Regions from separate parts of the Homo sapiens genome. Here region 1 is linked to region 2. Evidence: fine-mapped QTL for protein levels in blood plasma. Region 2 holds a variant in brackets. A gene starts in the other region. All regions are shown on their reverse strands.

What was found. PIP is the chance, under the fine-mapping model, that this variant and not a neighbour inherited with it causes the effect. Protein levels are from antibody-based Olink assays in UK Biobank. Linkage for the fine-mapping came from a reference panel and not from the study's own genotypes, which makes the PIPs less certain.
Region 1: CNTN5 starts here. The variant in region 2 is fine-mapped to the plasma level of the CNTN5 protein (UK Biobank, PIP 0.94).

The regions. Positions count from the first base shown.
Region 1 is chr11:99,012,525-99,029,019 of GRCh38, reverse strand. CNTN5 (contactin 5) reads right to left here and starts at 8,071. Exons shown (of 25, transcript NM_014361.4): 1 at 7,750-8,071. RefSeq lists a silencer at 5,494-5,694.
Region 2 is chr9:94,358,539-94,374,678 of GRCh38, reverse strand. LOC100132077 (a long non-coding RNA gene) reads right to left here. Exons shown (of 3, transcript NR_033937.1): 3 at 13,731-15,194. It overlaps SLC71A2 (solute carrier family 71 member 2), which reads right to left and starts at 110. Exons shown (of 12, transcript NM_032558.3): 1 at 1-110. RefSeq lists a silencer at 1-291 and an enhancer at 1-342. The variant C/A (reference allele first, on the strand shown) is at 12,767.

The DNA of each region.
Region 1 (16,495 bases), not on the chromosome of region 2:
TTTTAAAGTCAAAACTGAACCTAAAATTCAAATACCACATCCTTTAATCCATATGACTCCCTATGTTAGCTATATTATTATAATTATTAAAATAATGTTTACTATGACTTCTGCCACTATTACTACTATTACTATTTGGAAACGGCCATATAAGCAAAGCTTCATTGGCTTCATAGTTAATCCACTCCTGCAAAATAAGTTTTATCAGCAGCATTAATATATCATACTACATAAATGAAAGAAATCAGTCTTATTTATAACATATAGAAATGGCATTTTTTTCCACAGCATCTCAGCCACATTCATTTTTACCTTGAGTTTGGCTATACCATGAGAGATTAGATGGCTCTGAGATATTAAAGTTAGCAACATAATGAGATGTCAAAAAACATCACATTCATTTAAAGTGGTTAGGTGAATCTTGGAACCAAAGTCACTTTAAAATAACTTAGGCACTGAAAAGTAAATGCAGCAGTTAGAGAACTAATGTTAGCATGAAATTGTCCAAGCTGGAAAGACTCATTAGGAGAAAAGTAACAGAAGTCTCCAGAAGGAGAAATATTGAAAATCTGTATCTTAGTCACATATACCTCTATGACTGCACATTTCACATTGAATTATATTCACCCTATGGGTGTATTTCCTCCACCAGGTTTGAACTATTTATTCTCTTTTATATTCTTCCTTTGTACTGCCACTGTCCACAGTAGACCATTTATGTGAGTAAATTAATGTTGAAATTGCATTAAATTACTCACTGTGGCACTTACTAACAAGACCACGTTAAAGAATGAGAAACAAACAAACACAGTCATATATTTTTAAAACAGTTAATATGTATAATTTTCATAAAATCAATTCTGGATCACTTAACTTCAATCTCAGATAACTACTCCTTCTTACTAAGATTACTGTTATTTGAAAATGTTAAAGAATTGAATGTAAGTTTTAGGAAAATAAATAACTAAGGAAAGTAAAAATTCAAAGAACTAAAATGACTATTCATTGGGCTTCAAGGACATGTTTTATATTTTCTTTATTTTATTTGCAAACTGGGGTTATATACTTAGGATATAAAAGACTTCAGATAAAATATTAACCTTTTTAGTCACCGTCTTTTACCTCATCTCTGCTACACTTATCGCGCCATCTTTAAATATTCAGTGTTTAAAGAAAAAGTCTTAAAACTTGAATTCATTCCCCCAAACACATAAATTGCTTGTCATAATTTGTCAATTAAAGCATCAGGAGAAGGCATCTGTACAAGCAATGTAATACCAGAAATTCAGCAATATTTAAACTGCCTTCCACTCAATTGCACTATGGTAATTTTATGTTTTATCATATTCAGTTCTACTGAGGAATTTTTAGTGTATATATTCATTCTAAAACAATTTATATGACATTATTAAAATTAAGCATAAGTAAACTTTGGTTCAGATACAATGACGATTAAATACTATTACGGTTTCAAATTTGTTGTCTATTAACCTCCTTTAATATTGTAACAGAAAAACTAGAATTTATATACAAGTTGACATTTGAATTTTAAAACACAGAAAAGTAGTGCATATTTCAAGAGATATATTCTCTGCTTTATTATCAAATGCTCTAAAATCGCTACTACCTTTAAAAAGCCCATGAATTAAAGTTTACCCAAAATTTGTCAAACACAGAAATATACTCTCATCTACATTTCTTGCTGAGTTTCTGTTTGATTTAGGGCTTCCATTAAACATTTATTACTAGGAAAAAAAGAAAACCTGCCAGTCTGGGAAAAATTAAGAAGTATTATAGGGCAAATGGATGTTCCCTTACATATATGCCATGGAATAAAATCACTTAAATCCTTTTTTCTACTTCATTATAATACTCTAAAAGATTCCCAAGTTTCATAATTAAAACTGTCAAAAAAAAAACCCCTTCTGTCATTTGATGTAGCTGGTGAGTGCATACCAAGTTCATTGTGAAAAAGTTCACATCTAGCAATTAAGTTCTGTAGTTGTTGGTTAAGAGAATGCGGGTATAGCAGTTTCCACTGAGTTAATATAATTGGATCTTAAATTTCTAATCTTAAAAGACAATGTTTTATGTATAATCAGTGGCAACAAGGAAATTACATATATTTATATTCTAATATAAGGATTTGATTTGAATAGATACAAAAATAATCAAGATGTCCACAGTCTAAAATGAAGTATAAGCCATAAAAAGCTCTGATCTTCAAATTTAAGAGATGTGGGTTCTAATTCCATCTTTTGCATTACTTGCAATGTTGAACACATCACTTCACCTTTTTATACCCTTGCTTATTAGTGAAGAAACTTTGTTTATTATGAGTAGGTAAAAATATGAGCTCGCATGGCCCCTTCCAATATTAAATGGTATTTATTCTGTCACTTTTTCCTAAGGGTTCCACAATTAATCATCAATAAATCATGAGATTTGTGCTGAATTTGAATGATACGGTTATTTTAGCATGAACTCTCATTCACCAGCTCACACATTAGAATAACAGCATCACAGAAGGAGGAAGAGAGTATTAAATAGAATTATGAAGCTTAGAGTTTCAATTCTCTTATCAATGCCATAACTTTTGAAATTCTTATCATTGAAAATACAAAATTAGAAAAGAAATAGTGGTCACTAACAAGTTGTTTTAATAATTTTTGCTATATGGGAGATAATATTAAGCCAGTCTATATCTTTTAGAAAAGAATATGAAGAAGAAGGTTTTAAAATAACAAAATAAGGCAAAATACAATACCTAACAGATTAAACATGAGACTTTTCACAGTGTTTTCAGATATATTTGGGGTCAATCTGTTCCAGTGCCCAGGAATTCCTATCATATTTAATGATCATGAAACTGCCAATTAAATAAAAATGTATTTTTAGAAAACAATAAAATTCTTTTAAAAATTCCTGTTGTCACTCACCTGTAACTTCCAATAATATTACTTTTAATCATCAGGGATTTTGTCTAGTTTAGTACACTTAAAGGCTCAAGAACAATAGTATCTCAACAAATATTGCATAATTGAAAGTAAGTTCTTGCATGTAACTGAAATGGGAGAACCTAGGTGAATTAGAATAGTTGTTCTAAATTCTTGAGTATTGCCTTTATATTTCGTTTAATTTCAGAAAAAAATCCTTAATACTTCTAAGTATAACATTAATTATTTAAGAAAATAAAGATAAAACTTTATATACTTAAAAGTAAATTTCTCACAAAATCAACATCCCATTTCTCTACTATTTATATGATAAATACAAACTCCTGCAACTAATGAAATATTTGTAAAAATACATTAATAGACCTGGTTGCAGCTCCAGATACTTTATTACTATCATTATAATATCTCTCGATGAGAGCATCTCAGTATTTTTAGCCTCATGATGAATGCTTCTGCCAATATTATAACTCACAAAAGGAAGAGAATTTCAATCAACTTTTTATCACCTATATAATCAGCAACATTTCTCTTCCTAAACATATGCTACGTTTACTACTGGATAGTAATGGAAGATGAGATGTTCTCCTTTCTGGGTTGTTAGCAGCTATAAGAATCCTATGAAGAACATCTCTACGCCCTTCATAAAATGTTTAAATATATAATTATACTTTTCCAGTCAATGGTTATGAAAGAGAATTTTTGATCATTCAGATAAATGAAATATTCCTTGCCTAAAATGCAATTGCTTATTTGGATTCTGTTCAGTTTAGTCACTTTCCCTTTAATTGGCTCCATATTTTCTAGTAAAGATACTAACTGTAACAATATTTTTCATAGAAAACTCATAAAATGTATTGGCTTCTTGCTTTTTATCTAGATCTCCGCTCTATGCAAATTGAGTGTGAGAAATATTTGGAAACATGACTGGCATAAGAGGAAATAGGTGAGTCCTGTCGGATCTGTTATGAGAAGGTCATTTGTGAAAATAAATAAATAAATAAAAAGTGGCCATTGGGCAACAAGTTATTTAGATCATTATGAGTTTTTAAGAACCACTTAGAAAAAGAGAAAAAACAACTTTACACCCGTGTTTTAAAATGTATCTAATGAAACATTTTCTGAAACGTTTAAAAATGGCAGTGATCACAAGAAATTCTAGCTTAAGAAATACACAGGAAATGAATATGACTGTAATTTCTTAAGATTCTCATGAATGATAGATCTCACACTATTTTATATTAGATTAAAAATGAGATTCTTTTTTTTATTTCCATAAAACAGACAATCTTGATTTATTTTTCACAATTACTTTGTGGCCTCTCTGGAAAGTTCCCAGTTCCCTGCACTGGAGAAAAGAGAAACTACCATACTTTGAATAGCTTTGTAACACGTATGAGCTTATGTTTGAGGAGGGTATAATGTCAAAAATATAACATGCACTACTCTGGGATATAAAACTAAAGACGTGTGTTTTAATTTATGGGGATTAATAGACATAAAATTATCTACAATTAGCTTATGCAAATATTTATAATAGGCAAAACATAACTGAAGTTATACAGTGTTGTGTCAATTTCTTGGGATTCAATTCAATACTTCAAAATAATTTTGATGAAAGAAATCCATTGTAAAACCAGTTTTCTTAAAAAGCAAATTCATGTTTCCCTTTAAAAATTGCTTTTATAGCCACTGTATTAAAACACTATATTTTGTGTCATTCAATTTAAATAAAATAATTAACTAAAACACTGTTTAAGTGTCTGGAAAAAACATAAACTAATAATATTCAGTTTATTAGAACACTTCTAACAATACACATTTGAATCTCCAAAAATCATAAAACAGGATTTCTTACTTGAGTGGGTAGGGAGATGGAATATAGTTCATAATAGTTTTTAATCTTAAATCTTAAGCATTAGGAGTTTTATATACTTCATTACTTTTTAAAATGTACCAGCCTCTAATGTGGAGTTATTGATCACAAATGCTCAGAAAATAGACCTCTGCAGTGATTCTACCGCTTTGAGCTTCCGACCAGTCTCTTTCCTGCTATAAAGTGTTAAGAAGTTCATGTAACATGTTAGCACAGCCTTACAACACGGTTCTTAACATCTTGTGAGAAACATATTACTCTCTTACTTTATGCTTGGATTGTCAGAAAGAAGAAAGAGAGATAAAATCAACTCCTGGAGTCAGAATTTCAAGAAAACAAACTACATGAATGTATGAGTTTATTATTTAAAGTAAGAGAAATAAATTTCCAACGACTTGGTAAAAATTTAAAAACCCGTATTTTAAAAGAAAGTTCAAAGACAATAGGTAATCAAGATACATGAGAAAGAATGGATTCGGCAAATTACAATATTGTAAATATCTGAGCCTCATAAAATTCTGGATTAGTTTTTGACTGATGAAGGAGACACTAAACTCTGCTACAACTTTGTTTTAGCCAATCAAACTCTCTACAGTCAAATCATCTTCACAGTATTACAGCCATCTAGAGAAGTTTTCATCATTTTTATTTTAATCTTCACAAATTATGCCTTTATTTTGTCTAGAAGTAAGACAAACTCCAAAATGCTTTGGCCAGCCTATGCGGGCCCTTTGCCCTTTACTGGCACCCTCTGGTCCATATTGCTAAGTCAGCTGTGACAGACAATCACACTCCTACCTCTACCCTGAAAGTGGTCAAGATTTTCTAAACTGTGAAGTAAAAGAGACATTTAAAGAAATACATATCAGCCAAACCTGGTACATTTCTAACAGATAGCGCTACTTAATTGGACACATAAGATTGAAGTAAATTTTTACATGCTACTAATTTTAATGATTCATCTTACATAAACATATTCTATGTATAGATTCATGATTTGATTTCAGGTTGGCTCCCTGACTAAGAATTGTTTCAGACCACCTAATACTTGAAGTACTAACTGCTCACCTTGAGAAACATTCAGGTATTTCAGCTATTCATTTAAAAATTCCACAACTGTAGCTTTTTGGATGTATTTCCAAAAGCACCTTGGTGTGCATGTGCCTCACAACTTATAGACAAAGTCCGGCATTTAGTTAATCTATGGGATTATATTTTTATATAACTTTTAAGAATCTAACTTTCTGTTCAGTTGTCTATGGAATCAGAAAGAAATTAAAATTAGCAGTTTTTCTCCTCCTTTCTCAATTTTCAGAAGTTTTAAATAATTTAAAGGATACACCAATTCCTAAGCAAAAACACTGGCACTTGTAATAATCATTTCACTGACTTTCTATTTTCAGATAGGCTTTAATATCATTCCCTCACACTCCAGCTATTTGTCAAATTCTATTCTTTATATTGAATTTCCCTTTTTATAACTTTAACTCTGATTTTTTTTGCCTTTTTCCCTTTAATGGACTTAGATGATCTTTTTATGTAATATCTTTAATTTGTTATCATTAGTTTTATATGACATATTCTTACTCATACCTCTTTTCGATTAGAGTCAGAGTAAACTTATGCCTGTTAAGTTTAAGACTCAGCATACTAGTCCCCACTTAACTTAGAATAATTTGAGCATGAAATAGGAGAATATGCAAGCAACCATGAGAATTGCTCAAAATTGACTACAGGCATTTTCAAAAACAGTTAATGACCTAATCATTATTTTTTAAAATACTGAGAGTCACAATATTAATCATAATGAACTCCTTTAAGCTCCCTGTAATGGTCATAAGTACTTCTGTAATTCTGTTGCAATTCAACAGTAATCGATGATATCTGCATTAATTTTTAAATTTGACTATTTGTCTATAATTTTAAATGCTAGTATTCTAATGAACATCTACTTCTTTCATCCTTATTTCCACAGTCGTAATTGAGAATCAAAGTAGAAGTATTGACCCTCTAAATGATTTTCTCTTTTAAATTAAGAAACAAATGAATGAAATGTAGGTAAGGCATTGAACATACAACAGTTTAAAAGTTTTTTGCTTCTCACCTGCATTTAAATTACCACATGAAATTGTATTTTTCTTGGGAGAACAGTTCTAAGATTTAAAAGTAATATAATTCTAAAATATTTAGTGGATTCTGGTTCTTTCGCAAATAAATATAGTTGAAACAACTTATTGTTCAGGTCATCAGAGTAATTCTCAGGTTTGTGTATGTGCAAATTGATATTCTCTTCCGTATATCTCCCTACAAAACATGGTAAGGATGTCTGAACATAATTTTTTAATCTATCACAATCCTATACAACCTTTAGAAAAAAGCTCAGCATAATCCAAGATACAGTTTTTCTCAGTCTCACGAACTTTGTAGAACTCCACTTATAGAGCATCCCTACTGAATTTTAACAAGTTATTGCAATGCCAGATGCCCAATTATTTAGTCTCGGAAACTCATTGCTCAAACATAAGGCATACATTCAGTACCTGAGAACGGCATCCTATTTTCCAAACATTTAGTTTCTTTTGTAGAAACATCCTCACTTTATCCTGGCATTTATTGCCTTACAATTTGCAATTTGCGTGTAGGAATTGCTTACTCTTATTTTGGGTGGCATTAGGAGATATACAAATAGGTTATATTTACTCTTGTTTCAACTTTTTGCCATAAAATCCCAGCAGGAAATAAAGTCGTGTTTTGTTTCCTTTATTTAAAAAAGCTTCATCTTACAGTTTTTACATTCTGGCAACATGGCAAGAAAGGATGGCTTTGCAGAACAGAGTGTGTCAAAAATCCTAAGTGGCTGGGAGATGAAGTGCACAATCACAGAACGCAGTCACTGGCAAAGGAATGTCAGCCACTTACCAATAAGATGCCAGACTCCACTGTCCTTCCTCTGTGACTCTCAATTCCTGTCTCCCATCCTCCTGCCCATCAGCACAGTTCAGAGAGAGCGGTTCCTCGGGTCCTTTGCAGCCTGTGGCAGAGGCGAATTGCGGAGTTCTTAATCATTCAGAGGGAATCCTCCAGCTTGCCCTGCCTCTCGCAGCAGACGGGACCCAGGTAACGCATCCTCTCCGCCCCGAGCTTTAATGGCACTTTGGCTGCCGCCTTCTCGCAGTTCCGCTCCCCCACGCCGTAGTTGGTTATATTGGGAAGTAGGTGCGGCGCCTCCTGCGGCTGGTGTGTTTGGGGCTCGCGTGTTTTCCTCCAATGCGTCCGCGCGCCCTGCGCCCCGCGCCTCTGACTGGCTGTGTCCTCCCGGGGCGGCCCCTCGCCCCTCCCCGGCCGCCCGCGCTGTCACCGGCGCCCGCGTCCAGCGCCTCACTGCCTCTTGCTGCAAAGGTTCATTGAGCATGTCCCTGGGCTTAACGAACTGTGCGCCTCCCGGAGGGTGCTCTGTGTTTCTCCACTCGTCTCACTAGTCAACCGGCATTTTCCTTCCCTGCTAAGTACAGAGGACCTGCCCCCCTTCCCCGAGCGTTTCTGCTCTGCAACCCCTCCGTATTTAACATTCATAGATTACAAAGCAAACGTGCTGGCTGGAGTCGGCACGGGAGATCCAGGCGAGAGTCCCTTCCTCCGCTCCTGTCTTCACTCTGATTCCTGTAGTCCCCGGCTCACACCTCTGACAGCAGCAGCACAGACTGACGCGTTCACTTAGGTCGGTTTGAGAGTGGACTTTTTCACTTTGCAGAATTTTCTTAAGTCCTGAATGGGAAGCACTTCTCTTTTGTTTCTGCACTTACGCGTTTCATCTAAGGACTATCAGGCTCTGCCTGTTTATATTTCTCTTTGATTTGGGGTGTTGACTCAGTTCTAAAAAAAAGCGAAGGAATGGTCTCAGCAACCTTTTTTTCGGAATTTTTATATTACAATGGCTGTAATTGGAAAAATAACACAGGTAGTAAATCCACAGTGTGGCAGCTTTAGTGCCATTGTTCTGCCAGTCCTCCTCTCTACTTTTTTTTTTTTTTTCCTCTCAGTCTTTGAGTCGTTTTCCAATTCCCACGATTGGGCTGATGGTAATTGGGTATTTGTTAAATAAATTATATAACATTTCCTTTGCAATATATTTCCATAGAGAATGTGGTTTGCACCTGTATTTAATGGAAAGGAAATCCCACGTACTGCTTTCTATCTCTGTGTCTGTATAAGAAACTGCATGGGAGTCTAGGGTCGCACCCCGTGTCCGCTGGTGTCCGTTTTTCATGTGTGTTTGAGAGCAGCCTGACCCTGGACTGACGCTGATTCTTCTGCTCACTGAATCCCCCGATGGGGTCTGACTGGCTCTAATTGGCAAGGAGAGTACAGTGCCAGGCAGCCTGTAGCTGGAAGCCGTCTACCACTAGCCCTGTGTTCTTTCTCTTGCAGTTTTTCTGGTAATTAAAATTAGTCTTTTCCTGTTTCTTGGCTGCTTCTCATTCATCCAATGATGTACAAACACCCAGTCTCTGCTTTTAATCGCTATCCTCAGGATCTAGGCTGATTGCTTGTTCTGTAGCAAAGACAAATTTGTGTGCATTTAATACTTCTCCACTCTTCCATACTTTTTATATTCGTGTTCCTGCTTTCCAGTAACTAGGTTATCTTCTTTATGTGTTAACTGAGGGATCGTTGTGGAGATTCCCCTTCTGTGGCTTTTTCTCTGCCCCACTGGCTCTTCTCCTCTGTCAGGCTGTCGGTTCACAGAGAGAACTACCAGGACTTTTATAACCACATTAAATACATCACAAAATAAATTCAAAGTGTAGGAGCTCTAACGCATTCTTTTTATTGTTCGATGAGGTTTTTGCCTTTAAAAGTGTATAATTGAGCACATGCAGCCTGAAAGAGGGATCGGGAGTGTAGAAAGCTTTCTGAAAGTTCTCTTCCCTTCTTAGAACACCATTCTATATTACCCATGATCCGATAATTTGGGCATTTTGAGTCATTATGTCACATAATTTCTTTCAACTAGCTTTGCCCTAGAAAGGATGTAAGTTGGCTTATAAAAATCTATTCAGTTTAAAAAAATGAATAAAAAATGTAGGTCAGTGAGATCAAGACAAACGGTAAAGTGATAGGAGGAGAGATAAGATGAAGCCAGAAATGAGGTTTATAGAGAAAACTGCATTGATGTTTTTGTTACAAATGGTGCTAGGTCTGCCATTAACTTTGTTAGCAGCCAATGTAAAGAAGGAAATGCTATCGGTCACATGATTCATGGTGCCCTCCTACCATTAACATGAACAAGAAAATTTACCTTTTACATGATGTAAATGGACTAAATATTTCTCCTTTCTTAAGCAAGAACTAAATAAAAGCTTTTAATGTTTCTACTTTTTATAAAGAGAGCAATATTATCACAAGACTATGGTGTGAATATATTTTTGAAACAAGTAGATAATGTAATAGCACTTTTCCTTGCGAAGTTATCTGATGCTTTAGAGGGAGAGAAAGGAAACGTTGAATCTGTTTAATTAAAAATAGTAAGGTCTATTTCTGTCAGTTCAAATTTAAAATGTTGACTTCAATCATTATTTGGGGGTGACTAGGTTACCTGGCTACACTTCATTCAGGACCCAGAAAGAGTGACTATATTTATTCTCATGTCTTTTATGACTTTTAATGTTCTAATTTGTAATAATATACAATTATATATTCCCTATTAATATCTATATATGTAACAGACAAACTGTTAGTCTATCTGACTCATCTTTCTTTAGAATTTTGCTGTTATGGAGTTAACTTATGTACTGTATATTTTTACAATTTTCTGCTTGGAGAGTAAGGGCTCTATAGATCAGGTACACTTCTGTATCCTTTTATATCCACAGTGTTCAGGTTTAAGCAGGTCAATGTCTGGAATTAGAGAAACAACAGTGCTTAAAATAAGAAACAAACAAACAAAACTCCTTGTTAGAGTTCCACTAAAAAGAAACAAACTACCTTGTGTTTTCCAAGTAAACATCAAATCTTTTCACATACCATGACCAAGATTTTCTACTATTGACATGTGAGAATGGGATTTTAAGTTATAGTTGTTTTGATGTAAGATTTGTCTTTAAAAGATATAAAAGTATGTATGCCCCATTATTAAATTCCAATGCTGTTTTCTTAATAAAATGGCATTATTAAAAGATCACTGGTTTTCTCTGTTTGATGCTAATGACATTTTTGAATTAACCAGCTCATCCTGTACCCTGGTAAAATATCATTTGTACATTAAGTTAATTAAAACATTGTTTGTAAGTGGGGTAAGTGGTTCAGTAGGTCACTTTCTCTATGCTATGGTTATGACACCTCAACCTAGCTGTCATGTTGCTGATCTGATCTTGTTGTCTAGCCATCTTTGTGTAAATGTCTTAATCTCTTTATCTCATCGTCCCCAATGGGCAAGCAAGCAGATGCAGCACATCTGTAGCAGTTGAGGTGCCTCTGAGCTTTTGTCTTATTTGTGTAACAGATTTTTATTGAAATCATGCCCTCCTTTCTCTTTCCCTTCATTTGACTCAGATAAGTTCTAGGTTCTAGTTAACAGATCATAACTATTATTATGTTCCATCAAATCATAGCATAACTGTAGGGAAGCAGACCAATGGTGAATTCATGTCTAGATCAGTCATCTTTCTTGGATCATCTGCCTTGCCTACTGGAGCTTCTTTTAGCATTTGCATTTTCTGTTTTGATGTTTTAATCCTCTATGTTAATGTGTTACCAATAATGGTGAATGGGTAAGTACTAAGATAAAAATTAAAGGAATCAAAATCTTGCATTTTCAATATATGCCAGTATTCCCTATAAGTGCAAAGTAACACATGAAGAAGCAAAAGTAAACTTTTACTTGAACTGGACAAAATATGATTTTAATTATATTTTGAGTTTCTTAGAAGATGTGTCTCAGTACTCATATCACAGCTGTTTTGTGAAAGCAGAAGTAAACATATCTTAATCAGACTTGGAAAATATACCAACTTAATTAATTTAACAGCTGCTTCAGTAAACAACGCTAAAGAACATAGTCTACTTTGTGGATGTCTTGATAACATCGGCAACCAAAACCATTAAGAAGTATGAGAGAGGAGCTCTAATTCAACTGTGGTGGTCAAGCTTTTGGTGGTCACAGTACCAACTCTTACTTACAGAAGCTGCAAATATCTAATCTCCTGTAGGTGGAATTTATGCTCACCCTTTGTGACATTTTGGTCCAACTATTTATGCAAACCATAAACATTTGCAGTTAATTAAGATTTTAGAAAATAGAAGTAAAAGTTGAAATCTTACTAATTTAAAGGTAAAGTTTACTTAGTTTTCATCCAGTAGATTCCTTTAGATATGCATTTCTATTTTTTTTTCTTGGATATATTTTAAGTCTCAGGATCTCTATCAGTTTTAATTCACTTACCTTTACAGATGTCTAATTTTTCTTTTATGTAGCATTCTCTCACCAAGACCTCTGGATATAAAGTTGTTTCCATAAAGAAACAAAACCAAAGATTCATTTGCTCATGACCAGGTAAATACCTCTGTATTGTCACTGTTTACATACCATTCTTCTCAGTATGGGATAAAAATGTCTAATGGTTTCTTAGAATTAGTCTAATTTGTTCTTTATGGTTTTAAAGAATGGCCATATGTGTGTTGCATCTTGATCATTTCCCATCTCTTCCCTGTCTCCCAAGTCTGTCAGGTACATTAACTTGACCTGTCTTTGATATTTGGCCCTCCATCAAAATAATCATCCTTCAAAAATATTGCTATCAAATATGATTCTCACCTTTATATATTAGACATTCCTGGTCTCATCTACAATATTTCCAAAATGTACTTAGAATCCAGCTTAAAACATTTTGTGTAGATCTTTAGGTGTAGAACTAGACTGTATGCCTCCTGTGGACCAGGAACTAAATTCTTCCACCCCTCAATCTGATATACTTTGTGTTTAAATTTTTATTGGCTGAGTAGCGTATATATAGGATGTCTCATTTGTTTGTCTGAGACTAACTCCAAGAGACTGCATTATAATGAAGAAGCAGAACATTTTCACCACCTATTTTTTTTTTGTTCACCAATAAGCCTGTAGTTAGCCATGTCTACCACTAGATGGCACTCATGCTCTAATTAGCAATGCCATTTAAGTTCTGACCTAAGGATGTTCCGATTTTTTAGAGAACTGAGAGGAACCCCAAATTAGCAGTTGAAGCTATAAGACAAGTTGTATAGATTATATGACATGAAGTATCTAATAAATACATTGGCAAACTGCAAAATGTCAGAATGTTTCGAAGGTACCCTTACACTCAGTGGCAAAACAGGAGCTATTAACATTTGTTGAGGGCTAAGTATACACTAGGCATGTAAGCATGCTTGAGATGAAATGTTTAATTCTGTATTAATGAGCTAATGAAACACAAATCTAAGTAAAGTGCCTCCACCATAGTGTTCTTAACTTGTTCACTAAACAAATCCCCATTTTAATTTGAATAAAAGAATTAGAACACCACAAAACAAGTTGTTTGTATCATATCAGATTAACATACCTCACATATAAAGAATCCAATTAATGGGGAATAGTTTTAGCACAAGTGCAATGCAAGGTAAAATACAAGATTAAATTTAATTGACAGTTTGTGGCATTTGCATATACTCACCAGGATATATGGTTCATTCAATTGACATTTATTAGGAACCTACTACTTTAAGAACTGCACAGAGATGAATAAATTTACATATGAGATTTTGGCAAAAATTTTTGTATACAAATGTATAATCTCACATTCTAGTGTTTTACCTGAATATCTTATTCAACTTGCTAATTGGCATATAACAACCTGCAGTTTTGGAGGAAAATACATTGTTTTCACACATGCTGTTTTTTGGTTTTTGGTTTTTTTTCAGAAGAGACTGCGTTTTGTTATATCCGAGTTATTTGCCATAATCCTTATTTATATCTAGTTTTCTGTGTTTATGAGTTAGAAGATCTTTTCCCTGTTACCATATCAGGTTCAGCCTGGCACCTGGAATTGGAACTGTGTTCTTTATACCTGAACTACCATCGACCATCACTTATGGTAGTGATAAGGGGATCAGGGCTCAGCTGGGAATTCTTTTGATGACGCAGGAGGCTCCCTCTCCAACAGCTACATTGGCTTTGCTTGCTGACAATGGTAAAAACTTGCTTTGTGTCTGTGAACTCTCAAGATATAATTTATAAGCTATGCGAGTACAGACACAACACCAATATTTTATGCTTAAATAGCACCTTTCTTGTAAGGATCCCAAGCCCACTTAATGTGACAACAAATATTAATCAATGTATTATAGCTACATGACACTTCTTTTATACACCTCTTATTATTTCTGGTTACACAAATTTTATATGAAAGAAAAAAATCATAGACTGTGAACCTACTTTCATTATAATTGGTGATGAGCTGCTCCTGGTGTTATGAAAATAAATTACTTCAGGTGCCAAAGTACAATATAGTGCAATTTTATTATCAAACCTTAATTGATTATTAATTATCAGCTCACAAAGGGCTGACGGTCTTCTTGTAGTAAAGAGAAAGGAAGCTAGGTTGGACAGTCCCAAAGAAAGGCAAAAGGCTGAGCAAGGTGGCATCATGTCGGCTCAGGTGTTTCTGCTAAACGATGCTTGCTAATGAGGTAGCAAGATACTGATAAGAATCCAGAGCAGAAGAAATCATATCAGAACCCACTGGAAGCCAATATGAGACAAGAAAAACATGGCAATGCTTACTGAAAAATGACAGCAGTGGTGTTCTGTATTCACGGCAAGCCTTAGAATAATGCCAACAACAGTGACAAGGCCGGAAGGATACAAAGTATGGTCATTTTCCAGTGGAAATCTGCACAATTAATGTGTAACAAAGTATTTGTATTAATGAAAACTGTATATTTGACCAAGAGACATTTAAAAACAGTAATAGAATAGTCGCTAAAACCAGACCTTTTGGATATAACAAGAATAATGGAAAAATCAGTTTTCTAGCCAGATAGTATTTTTTTTTTTAAGTTGGGTGATAGTTATACTAAAAGCACAGATTTCAGCACAGGGCAATATATGCATGTAACAAAACCGCACTGCACTTCTAAGTCTATACAAATAAATTTTTACAAAATAAAAAATAAAATAAGGGCAAAACTACCTGACTTACGGACTCATGGACCACTCACTGGGAAGACTGAGACTTTATAGGCCATTTCCACTCCAAGCCCTCATCCCTTATTCCAGGTCTACTTTGCCTGTTAGCTATCCCTTGTGCGTGTTCTTCTTGGCAAAGCAGGGCACAACTGTGCCAACCCTCTAAAGTGAGCAAGCTGCAGCTGTCCCACTCATCTTCTCCTCAACATCCAAAATAGAATTGCAGACCTTTCCCCCAACCTTTTCCTTCTCTTTTTTTTCTTTTTTTTTTAATTATACTTTAAGTTTTTGGGTACGTGTGCACAACGTGCAGGTTAGTTACATATGTATACATGTGCCATGTTGGTGTGCTGCACCCATTAACTCGTCATTTAACATTAGGTATATCTCCTAATGCTATCCCTCCCCGCTCCCCCCACCCCACAACAGGCCCCGGTGTGTGATGTTCCCCTTCCTGTGTCCATGTGTTCTCATTGTTCAATTCCCACCTATGAGTGAGAACATGCGGTGTTTGTTTTTTTGTCTTTGCGATAGTTTGCTGAGAATGATGGTTTCCGGCTTCATCCATGTCCCTACAAAGGACATGAACTCATCATTTTTTATGGCTGCATAGTATTCCATGGTGTATATGTGCCACATTTTCTTAAACCAGTCTATCATCGTTGGACATTTGGGTTGGTTCTAAGTCTTTGATATTGTGAATAGTGCCGCAATAAACATACGTGTGCATGTGTCTTTATAGCAGCATGATTTATAATCCTTTGGGTATATACCCAGTAATGGGATGGCTGGGTCGAATGGTATTTCTAGTTCAGTATGGCCTGAATGAGAGTTCCAACTTCTACTCTCTTAGAGTACAGTTGATCCTTGACCAACACGGGTTTGAACTCCACGGTTCTATTTATACACAGGTTTTCTTCCACCTTTGCCACCCCTGAGACACCCCTCCTCCTCCCCTTCCTCCTCTTCAGCCTACTCAACAGGAAGACAAAGCCTTTTTTTTTTCTCTCTCTCTCTGAGTGGGAGCCTCACTTTGTTGCTGCCCAGGCTGGAGCGCAGTGACGGGATCTCGGCTCACTGCAATATCCACCTCCCGGGTTCAAGCGATTCTCCTGCCTCTGCATCCCTAGTAACTGGGACTACAGGCGCCTGCAAACCAAGCCTGGCTTTTTGTGTTTTAGTAGAGAAGGGGTTTCAACATATTGGCCAGGCTAGTCTCGAACTCCTGACCTCAATTGGTCTGCCCGTTCCAGCCTCCCAAAGTGCTGGGATTACAGGCATGAGCCACCGCGCCTGGCTGGGGATGAGTCTTTATGAGATGATCCTCTTCCACTTAATAAATACCAACTATGTTTTATTTTCCTTTTGGTTTTCTTAACATTTTTTCTCTAGTTTATTTCATTGTAAGAATGCCATATATAATACATACGCCATACAAAATATATGATAATCAACTGTTTATGT
Region 2 (16,140 bases):
GGGCTGAGGAGGCGGCGGAGGCTGAAGCTGCGGATCAGGCTAGCAGAAGACCGCAGCTCCAGGAACCGACCACTTATCAAACCGCACCGACCCCGACTCTCGCAGTTACCGGCGGCGTCAGGGGCGGGCTGCACGGTTAAGAGACTGTGCCCCGCCCCGCCTCCCCACAGGCCGGCGCCGGGCAGGAGGCCCCGCCCCGCACCTCAGCTCCCGCCTCGAGAACGAGTCCCGCGCCTGAGTAGCCTCCAGCGACGCCACGCCCACTTCAGAGACCCCTCCTTTACCTCGCGACTGGCCCCTTGGCATCAGGACTTCGCGGCGCGCGGGAAGTACGTCATTTCGAGAGCCCGTACGACTGATTTCTTTTTCCGGAGAATCTGGACTGAGGCTAGCAAGCGGGGAGGGGCAAACTCGTGGGGGTTTGGTAGTGATTGCAGTTCAGTTTTGGTCTTGGTTTGCGCCAACCCGCCAACCTCTCAAGTTTTTCTATGGTTCTCTAAGAAGAAAATAATATACTAGCAATGTTTCCCAAACGTACTTGAACACAACACTTTTTATTCTTGACACATGATTAATATCTTGTAGAATGTGTAGGACGCAGTTGGAAAAGCCTGGCTTATGTTTATTTATTTTGAAAGATATGCACCTAATACTGAAATATAAAAAAGCCTACAGGCCTGGAGCGGTGGCCCACACCTATAATCCCAGCACTTTGGGAGGCCGAGGCGGCTGGTTCACCTGAGGTCAGGAGTTAGAGACCAGCCTGGCCAACGCGGTGAAACCCTGTCTCTACTAAAAAACAAAAACAAAAACAAAAAACACCAAAAAAATTAGCCGGGCTTGGTGGCGCACGCCTGTAATCCAAGCTACTCGGGAGGCTGAGGCAGGAGAATAGCTTGAACCTGGGAGCCGGAGGTTGCAGTGAGCCGAGATAGCGTCACTGCACTCCATCCTGGGCGACAGAGTGAGGCTCTGTCTCACAAAAAAAAAAAAAAAATCTTTTTACAAACATCAATAGAAAAAAGAATAAAATTATTTCTATTAACAGGATTAGTAATTTTAATTGAATTAAAGTCATTTCATTTAAGAATTTTTTCAGGTTGGGCGTGGTGGCTCACGCCTGTAATCCCAGGACTTTGGCAGGCAGAGGTGGGCGGATCGCCTGAGGTCAAGAGTTCCAGACCAGCCTGGCCAACATGGTGAAACCCCGTCTCTACTAAAAATACAGAAGTTAGCCGGGCATGGTGGCGGATGCCTGTAATCCCAGCTACTTGGGAGGCTGAGGGAAGAGAATCGCTTGAACCCAGGAGGCGGAGGTTGCAGTGAGCCGAGATGGTGCACTGCACTCCACCCTGGGTGACAAGAGTGAGACTTCGTCTCCAAAAAAAAAAAAAAAAAAAGCCTCTTTTTCGCTTCCCACCCACTACCCCCAAACACACACACACACACTTTGCAGAAGTCTTTACTTTTATTTATTTATTTATTTATTTGAGACAGAGTCTTGCTCTGTCACCCAGGCTACAGTCACCCAGCCTAGATCAGTGGCGTGATCTAGGTTCACTGCAACCTCTACCTCCCGCATTCAAGCGACTCTCCTGCCTGAGCCTGCCGAGTAGCTGGGATTACAGGTGCGCGTCACCATGCCCGGCTAATTTTTGTATTTTTAGTAGAGACGGGGTTTCACCATGTTGGCTGGGCTGGTCTTGAACTACTGACTTCAAGTGATCCGCCCCCCTCGGCTCACCGAGCCGGCCTGGTCTTTTTTCTTTTTTTTTTTTTTTTTTTGAGACGAAATTTCGCTTTTGTCGCCCAGCCTAGATCAGTGGCTCGATCTCGGCTCACTGCAACCTGTGCCTCCTGGGTTCAAGCAATTCTCCTGCCTCAGACTCTCGAGTAGCTGGGATTACAGGTGCATGCCACGACCTGGCTATCTTCTGTATGTTTAGTAGAGACAAGTTCACCATGTTGGCCAGGCTGTTCTCGAATTCCTGATCTCAGGTGATCCACCCGCCTCGACCTCCCATAGTGCTGGGATTACAGGCGTGAGCGACTACACCCAGCCTGATTTGTCTACTTTTCTGAATGATTGTTTTAACAAATAGTTTTCAAAACACAGAGGGAATATATGTATTATGTTATGCTGTTTGAGTATTATGTTTATGCCACTTATGAGCTTGGGTATCAGTTTCTGATTCCTGTATCCATGAAACAGAAAAGTTTGTAAACTGTTTTTTTGTTTTCTTTTGAGACAGTCTTGCTCTGTTGCCCAGTCTGGAGTACAGTGGCGCGATCTCAGCTCACTGCAACCTCTGCCTCTCCGGTTCAAACGATTGTGGTGCCTCAGCCTCCCGAGTAGCTGGGACTACAGGCACCTGCCACCACACCCAGCCAATTTTTGTATTTTTAGTAGAGACAGGGTTTCACCATGTTGGCTGGGCTGGTCTCCAACTCCTGACCTCAAGTGATCCGCCTGCCTCAACATCCCAAAGTGCTGGGATTACAGGCATGAGCCACCATGCCCAGCCTGGACTGTTTTCTTAAATAGACTTACAATAAAGTTATCCTAGAGGGAATAATGGAGTTTTTTGAAGTTTATTTTCTTTATCACAAAAGCCACTAAAGTTTGCTATAATACTAGCAGTGTATATTTTTAACTACAGAATAGGCTGTGATTCTACTGAGGCAAACTTATAAATTATACCAGATAAGTATACCATTATATCTTTGATGGTTGATATTGCCATATCAGCTATATCAGAGTAACATATGCTAATACAGTTCTTTTTCCTAAGAGGAGAAATTCAAACAATTTGCTGATCTTTTTTTTTTTTTTTTTTTTGATACAGAGTCTTGCTCTGTCGCCTAGGCTGGAGTTCAGTGACGCGATCACAGCTCACTGCAGCCTTGACCTCCTGGGCTCAAGTGATCCTCCCACCTCAGCCTCCTGGGTAGCTGGGACCACAGGTGCATAAAACCATGCCTGGCTACCTTTTTAATTTTTGGTAGAGACAGTGTCTCACTGTGTTGCCCAGCCTGTTCTCCAACTCCTGGGCTCAAGCAATCTTCCTACCTCAGCCTCCCAAAGTACTGGAATTATAGGCGTGAGCCACCGTGCCTAGCCTTGCTGATTTCTATTTAATATTTTTGTTGAGATTTTTCGCTTTAAATAAATTAATCATCTGGTCTTAAAGCTGGATTTTAAGATTGGGTTAAACTTAATGCTAAAATAGGGTATCTAATAACTGAGAGTCTTTAATCCCCAAGACTATCCTCTGGTTTAATGATTCACTAGAAGAACCCCAAAAAGCTATTTTACTCATAGTTACAGTTTATTATAGTGAAAGGATACAGATGAAAATAGCAAAGGTAAGAGGCAGCAGAGTCCACGAGAGACCACGCACAAGCTTCCAGTTGTCCTTTCTGAGTAGAGTCTATGGGCAGCACCACTAATTCTCCCAGCAATGATATGGATCTGGGTGCTGTGCTCTCTCTCTCTCTACTTGTGTGTGTGTGTGTGTGTGTGTGTGTGTGTGTGTGTGTGTGTGTTAACAATACATGTAGTTTCAGAATTTCTAACTCTGTGGAAGCAAGTTTTCCAACTACAGTGTTTATGTACGGTTCTTTTTGTTTTTATCCTGAAAGTAGCCAGTCAAAACAGTTTTCCAAATCAATTCAATTTCTTTCTTATTTACTCAAATCAATTCTTTTTTGATTGAGTAATCAATCAAACTTTTATTTATTTACTCAATTTATTTTTTCCCCACTCACTTTGGTGAGGTTATGCCATACCTTTGTAATATAATTAAGTTCATTTGTCGTGCTGGCCATTCTATCCTAAGATCCCACATTAATTTGCATAAAGTTAACTCTCTGCAGTGTATTGTTCTGTGGATTTTGACAAATGGATGGGCCAGGTGCAGTGGCTCAGGCCTGTAATCCCAGCACTTTGGGAGGTCGAGGTGGGAGGATCACTTGAGACCAGGACTTCAAGAGAAATAGGTAGTTATGCATCTACTGCCACAAGACCCTAAATATTCCCTTGTGTGGTCAATTTGTAATCAACAGAAAGGGGGAAGTGGTATTGAATTCATCACTTTTTATATATAATTTGAATCTTTTTTAAAGTATGATGCAATTGGGTTGTTCAATAATGTCTGTGAGTCTCCTTGTACTGGCAGTTGTCTGCTGGGAAGGAAATCCAGAGCTGGCACCTGCATGGCCCAGATCCAAGCCAAGGTGTATAAAGCAATACCTTCACATGGTATCTTTGTTGCTGTTTCTCCACCCGTCTACTGTTCCCTGTGTGAAAGGATAACAAACTGTCTTACGATAATTGTCTAAATGTTTAAAACACACTTCACTTAATTTTGTTTGTTCCGAGCACTACTTTGTAATTGCAATTATAACAATGTGTTAAGATAAACTTATTTTCACAGATTTTTTTTTTTTGAGATGCAATATCGCTCTCTCACCCAGGCTGGAGTGTGGGGTGCAGTGGTGCAATTTTGGCTCACTGCAACCTCTGCCTCCCAGGCTCAAGCGATTCTCCTGTCTCAGCTTCCCAAGTAGCTGGGATTACAGGTGCATACAACCACACCCAGATAATTTTTTTTTTTTTTGAGATGGATTCTTGCTCTGTCGCCCAGACTGGAGCGCAGTGGTGCAATTTTGGCTCACTGCAAGCTCCACCTCCCGGGCTCAAGCAATTCTCCTGTCTCAGCCTCCCAAGTAGCTGGATCACAGGCACATACTACCACACCTAGATAATTTTTTTGTTTTTTCAGACGGTGTCTCGCTCTGTCACTCTAGAGTATAGTGGCACAATCTCAGCTCACTGCAACCTCCGCCTCCCAGGTTCAAGCAATTCTCATGCCTCAGCCTCCTGAGTAGCTGGGATCACAGGTGCCCACCACCACGCCCGGCTAACTTTTGTATTTTTAGTAGAGATGGGGTTTCACCATGTTGGCCAGGCTGGTCTCAAACTCCTGAACTCAGGTGATCTGCTCGCCTTGGCCTCCCAAAGTGGTGGGATTACAAGGGTAAGCCACTGCGACTGGCAACAGATTTTAGTTTAAGATAATGTTCTAATGAAAACTTGTTTTCAGTATTTGCAATGCATTATCAGTCCTATCTGAGAGTATTCAGTTAGGTTGGCGCTTTTTTTTCTCTTTTTTTTTCTTTTGTTTTTAATGGAGAACTATCCTTACTGAACCTCCTCAATTATTTGCCTTCCATTCAGCACTAAGCTAAAAGGCAGATGTGAATTGCCATCTGGAAAAAAAGTATATTTGGCAATTATACATACCAAGGTGATTCAGAGTCAAATGGACCGGGCAAATGTTTTATACAAAGGGTGGAATTTTAGTTAGAATGGCGATCATTAAAAAGTCAGGAAACAACAGGTGCTGGAGAGGATGTGGAGAAATAGGAACGCTTTTACACTGTTGGTAGTGTAAACTAGTTCAACCATTGTAGAAGACAGTGTGGCAATTCCTCGAGGATCTAGAACTAGAAATACCATTTGACCCAATGATCCCATTACTGGGTATATACTCAAAGGATTATAAATCATGCTACTATAAAGACACATGCACACATATGTTTATTGTGGCACTATTCACAATACCAAAAACTTGGAACCAACCCAAATGTCCATCAATGATATACTGGATTAAGAGAATGTGGCACATATACACCATGGAATATTATGCAGCCATAAAAAAGGATGAGTTCATGTCCTTTGTAGGGACATGGATGAAGCTGGAAACCATCATTCTGAGCAGACTATCACAAGGACAGAAAACCTTGACACAGGGCAGGAAACATCACACATGGGGGCCTGTTGTGAGTTGGGGGGCAGGGGGAGGGATAGCATTAGGAGAAATACCTGATGTAAATGATGAGTTAATGGGTGCAGCAAACCAACATGGCACATGTATACCCATGTAACAAACCTGCACGCTGTGCTCACGTACCCTAGAACTTAAAGCATAATAATAATAATAAAAAGGTAGAATTTTACGTGACCCAGGCAAAGGGTTTATTCTACAATGTGTGTGAACCATGTAAAAAGTAGGAACGTAAGGACTTTTTTCCTTGCCCTACTTCCGTTTCACATGCTAGAAATATATACAGCATGCTGCCTGCTGTCCCTGTAGTCTTCGCAACAGAAGTGATACCATCTCTATGCCAGAAGCAGGAATTGCTGATGTAGGTCAGCCCCTCTTTTTCCTTGTCACCCTCGCATAGTCAATGATCAAATCTTGCTTATGCCCTTTCTCACCTCCTATCTCTTTCACCACTCCATCAAAGCAACTGTTGTGCCCTATTTATTTTATATGTCAGATTGTTCTATGCCTGCTTACTGCCTTAGTTCATACCCTTCCCATTTCTCAGCAGTTTGCTGTACATCTTTGGGTTCATTTCCACTTATGCATTGTACTCTTCACACAAAATTAGTCTTTCTCACCAAAAGCAATTGTAACAAAAGCAAAAATTGACAAATGGGATCTAATTAAATGTAGGAGCTTCTACATAGTTAAGAAACTGTCAACAGAGTAAACAGCCTACAAAATGGGAGAAAGTTTTTGCAAACTATGCATCTGACAAAAGTCTCACATCCAGGCTCTATTAATATAAGGAACTTAAACAAATCAACAAGAAAAAAAAGCCAACCCCATTAAAAAGTAGGCAAAGGACATGAGCAGACACTTTTCAAAAGAAAACATACATGCGGCCAATGAACATATGAAAAAAAGCTCAATATCACTTATCATTAGAGAAATGCAAATCAAAACCACAATGAGATACCATCTCACACCAGTCAGGATGGCTATTATTAAAAAGTCAAAAAATAACAGATTCTGACAAGGTTGCAGAGAGAAGGGAATGCTTTTACACTGTTGGCGGGAGTGTAAATTAGTGCAAACCATTGTGGAAAGCACTGTGACGATTACTCGAAGAGCTAAAAACAGAACTATCATTCAACGTAGCAGTCCCATCTCTGAGTATATTACCCAGAGGAATATAAATCATTCTATCATAAAGACACATGCATGTGAATGTTCACTGCAGCACTAGTCACAATAGCAAAGACATGGAATCAACCTAAATGCCCATCAATGACAGATTGGATAAAGAAAATGTGGTACATACATGCCATGGAATAGTATGCAGCCATAGAAAAGAATGAGATGATATATTTTGCTGGATCACTCATGGAGCTAAAGGCTATTATCCTTAGCAAACTAGCACAGGAACAGAAAACCAAATACCACATGTTCTCACTTATAGGTGGGAGCTAATTGATAAGAACTCAATGACACAAATAGGCGAACAACAGACAGTGGGGACTACTTGAGGGTGGAGGGTGGGGGGAGGGAGAGGATTCAAAAAAATAACTATTGGGTACTAGGCTTAGTACCTGGGCGACAAAATAATCTGTACAACAAACCCCCATGACACTAGGTTACCTATATAACAAACCTGCACATGTACCCCTGAACCTAAAAGTTTGGGGAAAAAAATGGTCTTTCTAAAATACAAATCTATCTTACTACATCACTTTCTTGCTAAAAATTCTTCAAGATATCCCGTTTTCATGAAGGAAAAGGCTCTGGTGCGTTAGCATGACATGAATGCCTCAGGCTCTGGCCTCTCCCCACCTGTCAGCCTTATCTCCTGGCATTTTTCTACACCCACATCATTGGGCTCCCATCATCTGTCAGGCTCCCTCAGTCTGAAATAGCCTCTTTCTCCTTCTCCTCCAGCCATTTATCTAATTCCTGTTTATAGGTATTCTAACTCCTGTTAAGACTCAGCTCAGGTATGGTCTCCACCAGGTTTTCCCCAAGTTTCCTTTCCGTATTGCAAAACCTTTCCTTGCACCTTCTGTACACTTTGTTTAGATTTCTGTCAACATATAGTTCTCTGAATGTTTAAAAAAAACAAAAAACAAACAAAAAAACACATAATCTTGCCGGGCACAGTGGCTCACGCCTGTAATCCCAGTACTTTGGGAGGCCAAGGTGGGTGGATCACTTGAGGTCAGGGGTTCGAGACCAGCCTGGCCAAAATGGAGAAACCTCGTCTCTACTAAAATACAAAAATTAGCTGGGCCTGGTGGTGGGTGCCTGTAATCCCAGCTACTCAGGAGGCTGAGGCAGGAGAATTGCTTGAACCCGAGAGGCAGAGGTTGCATGAGCCAAGATTGCACTATTGCACTCCAGCCAGGCGACAGAGCGAGACTCCGTCTCAAAAAACAAAAACAAACAAACAAACAAAAAACATAATCTTATCCAAAGAGATAGTGAGCACATGCCAACATTTTATTTATCTCGGTAATAAGGGAACCCATAAAGTGGGTTCAAAAGAGAATTTGAAAAACGAGGATTATTACAGTCAATGTGAACAAAATGGAAGGATGAATTAATATTGGCACATTAGATGCAGCCCTAGTTAATGTCCTATTGGGCAATTAAACTGTAGCAGTTGGGGTGATCTCATTTTTCCACCATGGAAAAGAAAACCAACTCATCAGTTTCTTAGGAGATAATTTCTAACTTTACAGGGCTGTAAAATATCTGAGCCTACCAGTAATAACATCAAAAATAAATAGTCAAAACCCTTTGAGAGTCAGAAGACCCTTGGATGGGTTTGTCAGACAATCGTCTTATAGCATGACATTGATGGAAGTGGAATCTCTTTACTTTGTTTCCACGTTTTGAGTAATTTTGCCTAGCACTATCATTGTTTACCCTGATGCTATACTTTTTAATTCACTCAACCTGGCATATACTGTGAACTTGAGAGAACTTAAGCTTTGGTGTTCAAACTGGGGTATGTATACCCCTTGTAATATGGAAAGACTTTTCAGGGGTTACGTGGCCATGGATAGCTTTTAGATGACCAATTTCCAGGCCCTCGTCCTAGGTGTGTACTCTTTCCTACAGCTAACCTGCTCCCTGAAGTGTCTCTGTTTTGCAAGTTCCTCTTTTCTTCCCAGTCCAATCACCCTTCTGCCACTTCACCAAAGCCTCCCACCCATCCCAGCCTGCTCATGAGCACACCCTGAGACCTAAACACTCCCATTTTCCATTAAGCAAAAGAGCCAAATTGGCCTCAAAAGTCTGACAAAAATATACTGAAAGCCAGTCTACAATATCCTGGAAAATACATTCTTTATCACAAACTAATGATAAATGTAAATGTCAACTTAAAAGTGTAGGGGGGGGACGTTAAACAGTTTATTAACATTTTTTTTTCCTTAGGAGACAGGGTCTCACTCTATCACCCAGGCTGGAGTACAGTGACATGATCATACTTCACTGCAGCCTCAAATTCCTGGGCTCAAGCAATCTTCCCAGCTCAGCCTCCAGAGTAACTGAGACTACAGGCGTGCACCACCATGCCCAGCTAGTTTGTTGTTGTTGTTGTTGTTGTCATTGTAGAGCCAAGGTTGGTTTCACTATGTTGCTCAGTCTGGTCTCAAACTCCTGGCCTCAAGGATTCTCCTGCCTTGGCCTCCCCAAGTGCTGGGGTTTAAGGGACGAGCCACCGCACCTGATCAACATTCTTTTAAGGATCGACAAGCACAACACTGAAGGCCACTGCATAGGAGGAAAATTCCGTACCTCCAAACTCCAGTGGAAGCCACAGCCGAGACCCTTGTCTTTTTGCTGTTGACTCGCTGAGCAATGTGGTACCTCATTTGGTTAGTTTACCTCTCCCTTCAGCCTGGTCAGCTGATCCTTTTCCACTGGTTTGATTTTAACACTTTGAGTGTTGGCTTAAACCATCCCTTTCTGTCTGTTCCCATTCCTCACTGCCTTTAGTTGGATGAGTGAGAAGGTCTTAGGGTTGATCCCATCCTGGTTCCCCTGTGGAGAGTGTTTGGGAAATGCCAGTGAATGTAGCCTGGATCACATTACTATAATTTTAAAGTTTCCTGGTCACTCTCCCTGTTACTTTTTACCCTGTGCACATTTTTTTTGTTGTATTTATCACAATTATTTGTGTACCAGACAGACTCTTTCTTTCTGGACGTTCATCTTTTTTACAGCAATACTTTTTATTGTTCATCTGTTAACCAATAGTTGAACTGAAATAAATCCAACTGGCCCACTAGACTGCAAGCATCCCCAAGACAAGTGTGTGTTTTATTTGCAATTGTACATCCAGTGTCAACACAGAGAAAGAACAGTAACACATTTATTGAGACATGACAGGCCAATAGTAAGCCCTTTAATACAGAGTCATTGAGTCATTAGGGCAAACCATGGGCATTGCCTGCATTTTAAATGCAGGGAAATAGAATTAGAGAGATTAGTTATGGCATCTGAGATCACATAGCAGTAAGTGGTGCCAGGATTCAAGTTGGGGCAGAATGACCCTGGAGTTTTTGGCCTCAAGTCAATTCTGTCTCGCAAATTGGATTTCTTGAATTATAGGGGTAATGAACAAAACAGCCTTGTGTTACTTACTTGTATTCAATAGGCTTTCAGAGGACCGGGGCCCAGGTGATCTATTGAGACCCAGAATGGGAGGTGCATACCTCCCATCTGGGGGGTGGGGAACTCAGCAGCAACTAGGAAGCTGTGGGGGCACCTTGGCCTTGCACTCAGGGCTCAAAGGGCATGGAAGCATCACAGTGAAAGCCACCATCATGAGAGAGAGGCCCAAGAATACAGATGGACTTGCACTTGAGTCCACTGGGCTTGTCCTCGTGGACAAGACGAGGTGACACTCAGGTAGGGACTAAACACCGGTATGAGCAGATGTGGATGGTGAGGAGGTGCTCGGAGGTGTGAGGCTACAGCCTCACATTCATGTGGTAGACTGTTTCAGGCTGGGGAAGCTTGGGATACTCTGGCTTCACTACAGTTGTTCAAGAAATTATGGAAGTATTGCATTGTTCTCTTAGCATACAAACTTTGTTTTCTTTATTCTTATTATAAATCTTTTACAAAAAAGATAGTGCTAAATAAAATTGTCTTATCTCTTAGGACATGTTTGCTATCGAGTTTGTGAAGTTAATATCTTCATACTTGACTCATTAGCTTGAAGTCAAATTTCAATATTATTGTAATTTCTAACAATACTCCCATTATTTTCCAGTTCCTGTGTTTAGCCATGAAAACCAATGTCACTTCGACTGAGTTACTTCATTTCTATGAGCTCATCTATTAAATAAGGCAGTTGGACAAGCTGTTTTCTACTATGCTCTCATAATCTCAAAGACAGTGACTGAGAGCCTGACTCTTTAAATGCTCAAAGTGAATTACTATTGATTTTTGCCTTTAAGACATTACTTAATGTGGTTATGACTTGTTTGATGTTAGTGAGTCTTTGATTAGAGTCCATTTCCAAGGTTAGCTTTGCTTCCATAGAAATGCAACTGCTATGCCATGACCTGAGTTAAAACCAATGGCCAAACTGTACCCTGTATGGAAGATTGGGGTTTCTTATCATCCAACTTAAGAACCACTGACCCTAGTGAAGTCCATGAAACAGAGAAGATAAACTCAGAGGAAAATACAATGTAAACTGCCAAACCAGACTGATGTACAGTCCATCAATTGATGAAGACACTTCAACCAAATAGATGTCTTGAAAAATTATAGATGATAAAGTATCGAATGGCCAGATAAATTGACAGGGATTTTATTGATTTTACAAAGGATGACATAGTTTCACTGACACTGCACTATAAGAAATATAATAGCAAAAAGATATTGCCTCCCACCTCCCCCAACCCCCGAGAACTTTCGGTAACGGAATTTCAAACTAAACATTTCCTTTTCATCTTTTCTCTTCTCTTTTCTTTCTTTTTGAAACAGAGTCTCACCCTGTCTCCTGGGCTGGAATGCAGTGGCGTGATCTTGGGTCACTGCAACCTCTGCCTCCCAGATTCAAGTGATTCTGCTGCCTCAGCCTACCAAGTAGCTAGGACTACATGTGTGCGCCACCACACTGGGCTATTTTTTGTATTTTTAGTAGAGACGGGGTTTCACCATGTTGGCCAGGCTGGTCTCGAACTCCTAACCTAAGGTGATCCACCTGCCTTGGCCTCCCAAAGTGCTGGGATTACAGGAGTGAGCCACTGTACCCAGCCAGACTAAACTTTTCTAAATGTCATGTGGAGGATGAAATTATTTGTATAAATGTTTTCATAAGTATATTATAAAGCATTTCAACACCTAGTAATCCATCACTAAAAGCATTAATTTTTGAAAATCATTGTGATATTTGGTACCATTATATAATGGAAAATAAGGTAAACGTGCAGACTGTATACAGTCCAATTCAATTACCAAATATGAGCAAAACCTATTAGATCAATTTCTGGCTTTTTTTGAAGAAACCGAATCAAGTTTATTCAATAGCACCCCATGGTCTCAATGTAACAGGAAAGGAAAGAGGATGCTAAAACCCACCTCCTTTGATAACCTCCAATTAGATGACCAACTGGCCTGATTTGCCTGGGAGTAAGGGTTATCAGGATGTCGGACATTTAGTGTTAAAACCAGGGCAGTCCGGGGCCTACTGGGACAGCTTGTCCTCTTCATCCCTCCAGGTCTTTTTAAAATGTGTGGAATATCCACATTTCTTTATCCTGGGACTTTTCTGTTTGCATGTAGGCTCTCCAGGAAGTCACAAAGCTGCACAACGGTGGGGCTGAGGAAATTAGCCAAGGAATCAGCCACGTCTCCGGGGCATCCGCCTCTTGTATTAGAGGTGTCTTCAGCTCTATCTTTGGGTGTCCAGG[C/A]TGCCACCAGGTAGCTAACACAGAACTGTCCTGGGCAACTTTTGTCTTTGGTACTCTGTGCTTTCCCTGTTGACATCCTCAGCTGCCACCTCCACAGGCCTCACATTGTATTCCCTGTGGCTCATGCCCGTGAACACTCTCTACAGGGACTTGCTTTCAGCACACTGTTAACTAATTGACAAAAATGCTAGCTATTGAAGCTCAAAGTGTGACCTCTTCTAGAAGTGCTGAGGTCTTAAAAGGTCATTCTCAGAGCTCAAAAATCTTTCAAAGACACAAAGCTAGACAGTAAAAATTGTTAGCTCTGTGAAAACCAAAGTGCAAAGCACTTAATAGCAATAGTTGTTTCTTACTGAGTACCATGTGTCAGGCACCATGCTAAATATTTCACAAACATTAATTCATACATACTACAGCAGCCCTGTGTGGTGTACTGAATCAAGCCCATTTCACAGGTAGAGATGCTGAGGCTGAGCTTGGTAATATGCCCTGCCCCATATCACAGAGCCAGAAAGATCAGAGCCTGATTTGAACCCGACTCCACGCTTATACACCTCAAAAGTCAGGCTCTTTTTTCCCCCACCATGAATAGGTTATTTTTTTCTGATATCATACACATACATACACACACATACACCATATATATATAGTTTTTGAAGACAGACAGGGTGTCGCTCCATTGCCCAGGCTGGAATACAGTGGTGCAATCATAGCTCACTGTAACCTCAAACTCCTGGGCTCCAGCAATCCTCCTGCCTCAGCCTCCCGAGTAGCTAGGACTGTAACTATGCCCAGGTAATTTTTTTTTTCCCAGAGACAGGGTCTCGCTATGTTGCCCAGGTTGGTCTTGAACTCCTGGGCTCAAGCAATCTTCCAGCCTCAGCCTCCCAGAATCCTGGGATTACAGGTCTGAGCCACCATGCTGGGCCTCACATGTTAGGTGTTTTTTGTTTTTTCGTTTTTTGTTTTGAGACGGACTTTTGCTCTTATTGCCAGGCTGGAGTATAGTGGTGCAATCTCGGCTCACTGCAACCTCCGCCTCCTGGGTTCAAGTGATTCTCCTGCCTCAGCCTCCCAAGTAGCTGGGATTACAGGCACCTGCCACCATGCCCAGCCAATTTTTTGTATATTTAGTAGAGATGGGTTTTCACCACGTTGGCCAGGCTTGTCTTGAACTCCTGACCTCAGGTGATCCACCCCTCGGCCTCCCAAAGTGCTGGGCTTACAGGCGTGAGCCACCACACCCAGCCACATGTTAGGTTTTAATGAGGTCTCTTAGTTTGCAGCTAGGATCAAGTCCTCTCTCTTACCTCTCACTGATTCAGCCACATACAATTATTTTGATCACCTGCTATGCACCTATGGTGTTCTTGGCACTAGGAATCCTGCTGTGAGTGAAGCTGAGCTCCTGCCTGTGTGGAGCCTGGGCCACATGGGTCTCCCAGATGTGCTCTGAAGTCACTGTCAAAAGTCATGGGCACTGGAGAGTTTCATGTGCCTGACGCTACGGAAGATACCAAATTCTACATTTGCCTCCAATGGGCACAAATGTCAGTTTCCATCAAGCTCCACCCTGTCCAGGTGACTCCTGTTGTGGCTCTTTTCATACCATCTCCCCTTCTCCCACAAGTGCCACCAACAGGCAAAGGTGGGGAGCTGGGTTTGGAGATGCTGGTCTGACCCTTAGGTGAAATCCTCTCCCCTGATGTTGCAGGAGAATGGGTGCTCAGATGGAGAATCAGCACTCTTCTCAGGTTTGGAAGGTGCTGTGGCTGGGGGAGTCTGCATTATGTTCTGGGCTGTGAGCTTTTCCAGAATTCCACTCCACAGGCACACGTCTGCTGTGTATGCATTTCTTGATATAAATCAGAAGTCCCTGAGTTCTCTACTCTTGAACGTCTATGTAACGTGTCTAGCACCATCTGAGGATGCTGGAAGTCGAGTCTGTTAGGAGGCCCCTGAATATGTGCTTGTCCCATTGGTGCTCCAGGAGGTTGCCTAACCCCTCATTTCTCTTTTGTTCTGTGTTTCTTGCTCTAGGCTATTACTCCATTTTCTGTAGGTCACCTCCTGCCACCTCTTCTCCAGGGTGATGCTGTTTGCAACACACAGTTCCTTGTCTTGGTTTCCTAAGCATCTTACTTCTGAAGGTGAGATACTGGCTGTAACAATTAAACTATTATTATAAGCTTGGGGATAACAGTAGGTACTTAAGAAAAGAATAAAATCAAACCTGAGCTTCAGATAAGGATCACAGGATTAATGCCTGCCTTGTACCGGACAATGGGGATAAAGACCAGTTGCCTCCACAAGTGACTCTCCTCAGGTCCCAGCCAGCTGACAACTGCATGCACTGATTATCTCTTTCTTTCCTTTTCTTTATCTGCATACAGGTTTTTCCAGGCCTTTGCTCACCCTGAAGGAGTCTCTGTTGCAAAAAATTGAGGTGAAATTCACATAATATAAAATGAGCCAATTTAAAACACACATTTCAGAGGCATTTAGTATCTTCACAAGGTTGTGACAAACATCACCTGTAGTTCTAAAATATTTTCTTCACATCAAAGGAGACCAAACCCCGTACCCATCAAGCAGTCACTCGCTGTTCCCTCCTCCCCCAGCCCCTGGTACCCACCAATCTGCTTTGTGTTTCTATGAATTTACCTATCTTGGACGTTCCATATAATTGGAACCATACCACAACATATGACCTTCAATTTCTGCCTTCTTTCACTTGTCATAATGTTTTCTGGATTCATCTACATTGTCAATGAAGTATCAATACCTCATTTCTTTTTAAAAATTGTGGTAAAATATACATAACAAAAATTTATCATTTTAACCATTGCCTTTTTTCTTTTCTTTGAGACACAGTCTCCCTCTATTGCCCAGGCTGCAGTTCAGGGGCACAATCTTGGCTCACTGCAACCTCTGCCTCCCGGGCTCAAGCGATTCTCATGCCTCAGCCTCCCGAGTAGCTGGGATTTCAGGCATGCACCACCATGCCCGGCTAATTTTTGTATTTTTAGTAGAGATGGGGTTTTACCATGTTGGCCAGGCTGGTCTCGAACTTCTGACCTCAGGTGATCCACCCACCTGGGCCTCCCAAAGTGTTCCACCCACCTGGGCCTCCCAAAGTGCTGGGATTACAGGCGTGAGCCACCGCACCTGGCCCATTTTAATCATTTCCAAGTGTACACGGTTCTGTAATATTTAAGTACATTCTCATTTTGGGACAACCGTCACCACTGTCCATCTCCAGAACTTTTTCACCTTCCCAAACTGAAACTCCAAGTCCATTATAGACTTTCCACTCCCTGTCCCCCAAATCCCTGATAACCACCATTCTACTTTCTGTCTGCCCGGTTGTGAGT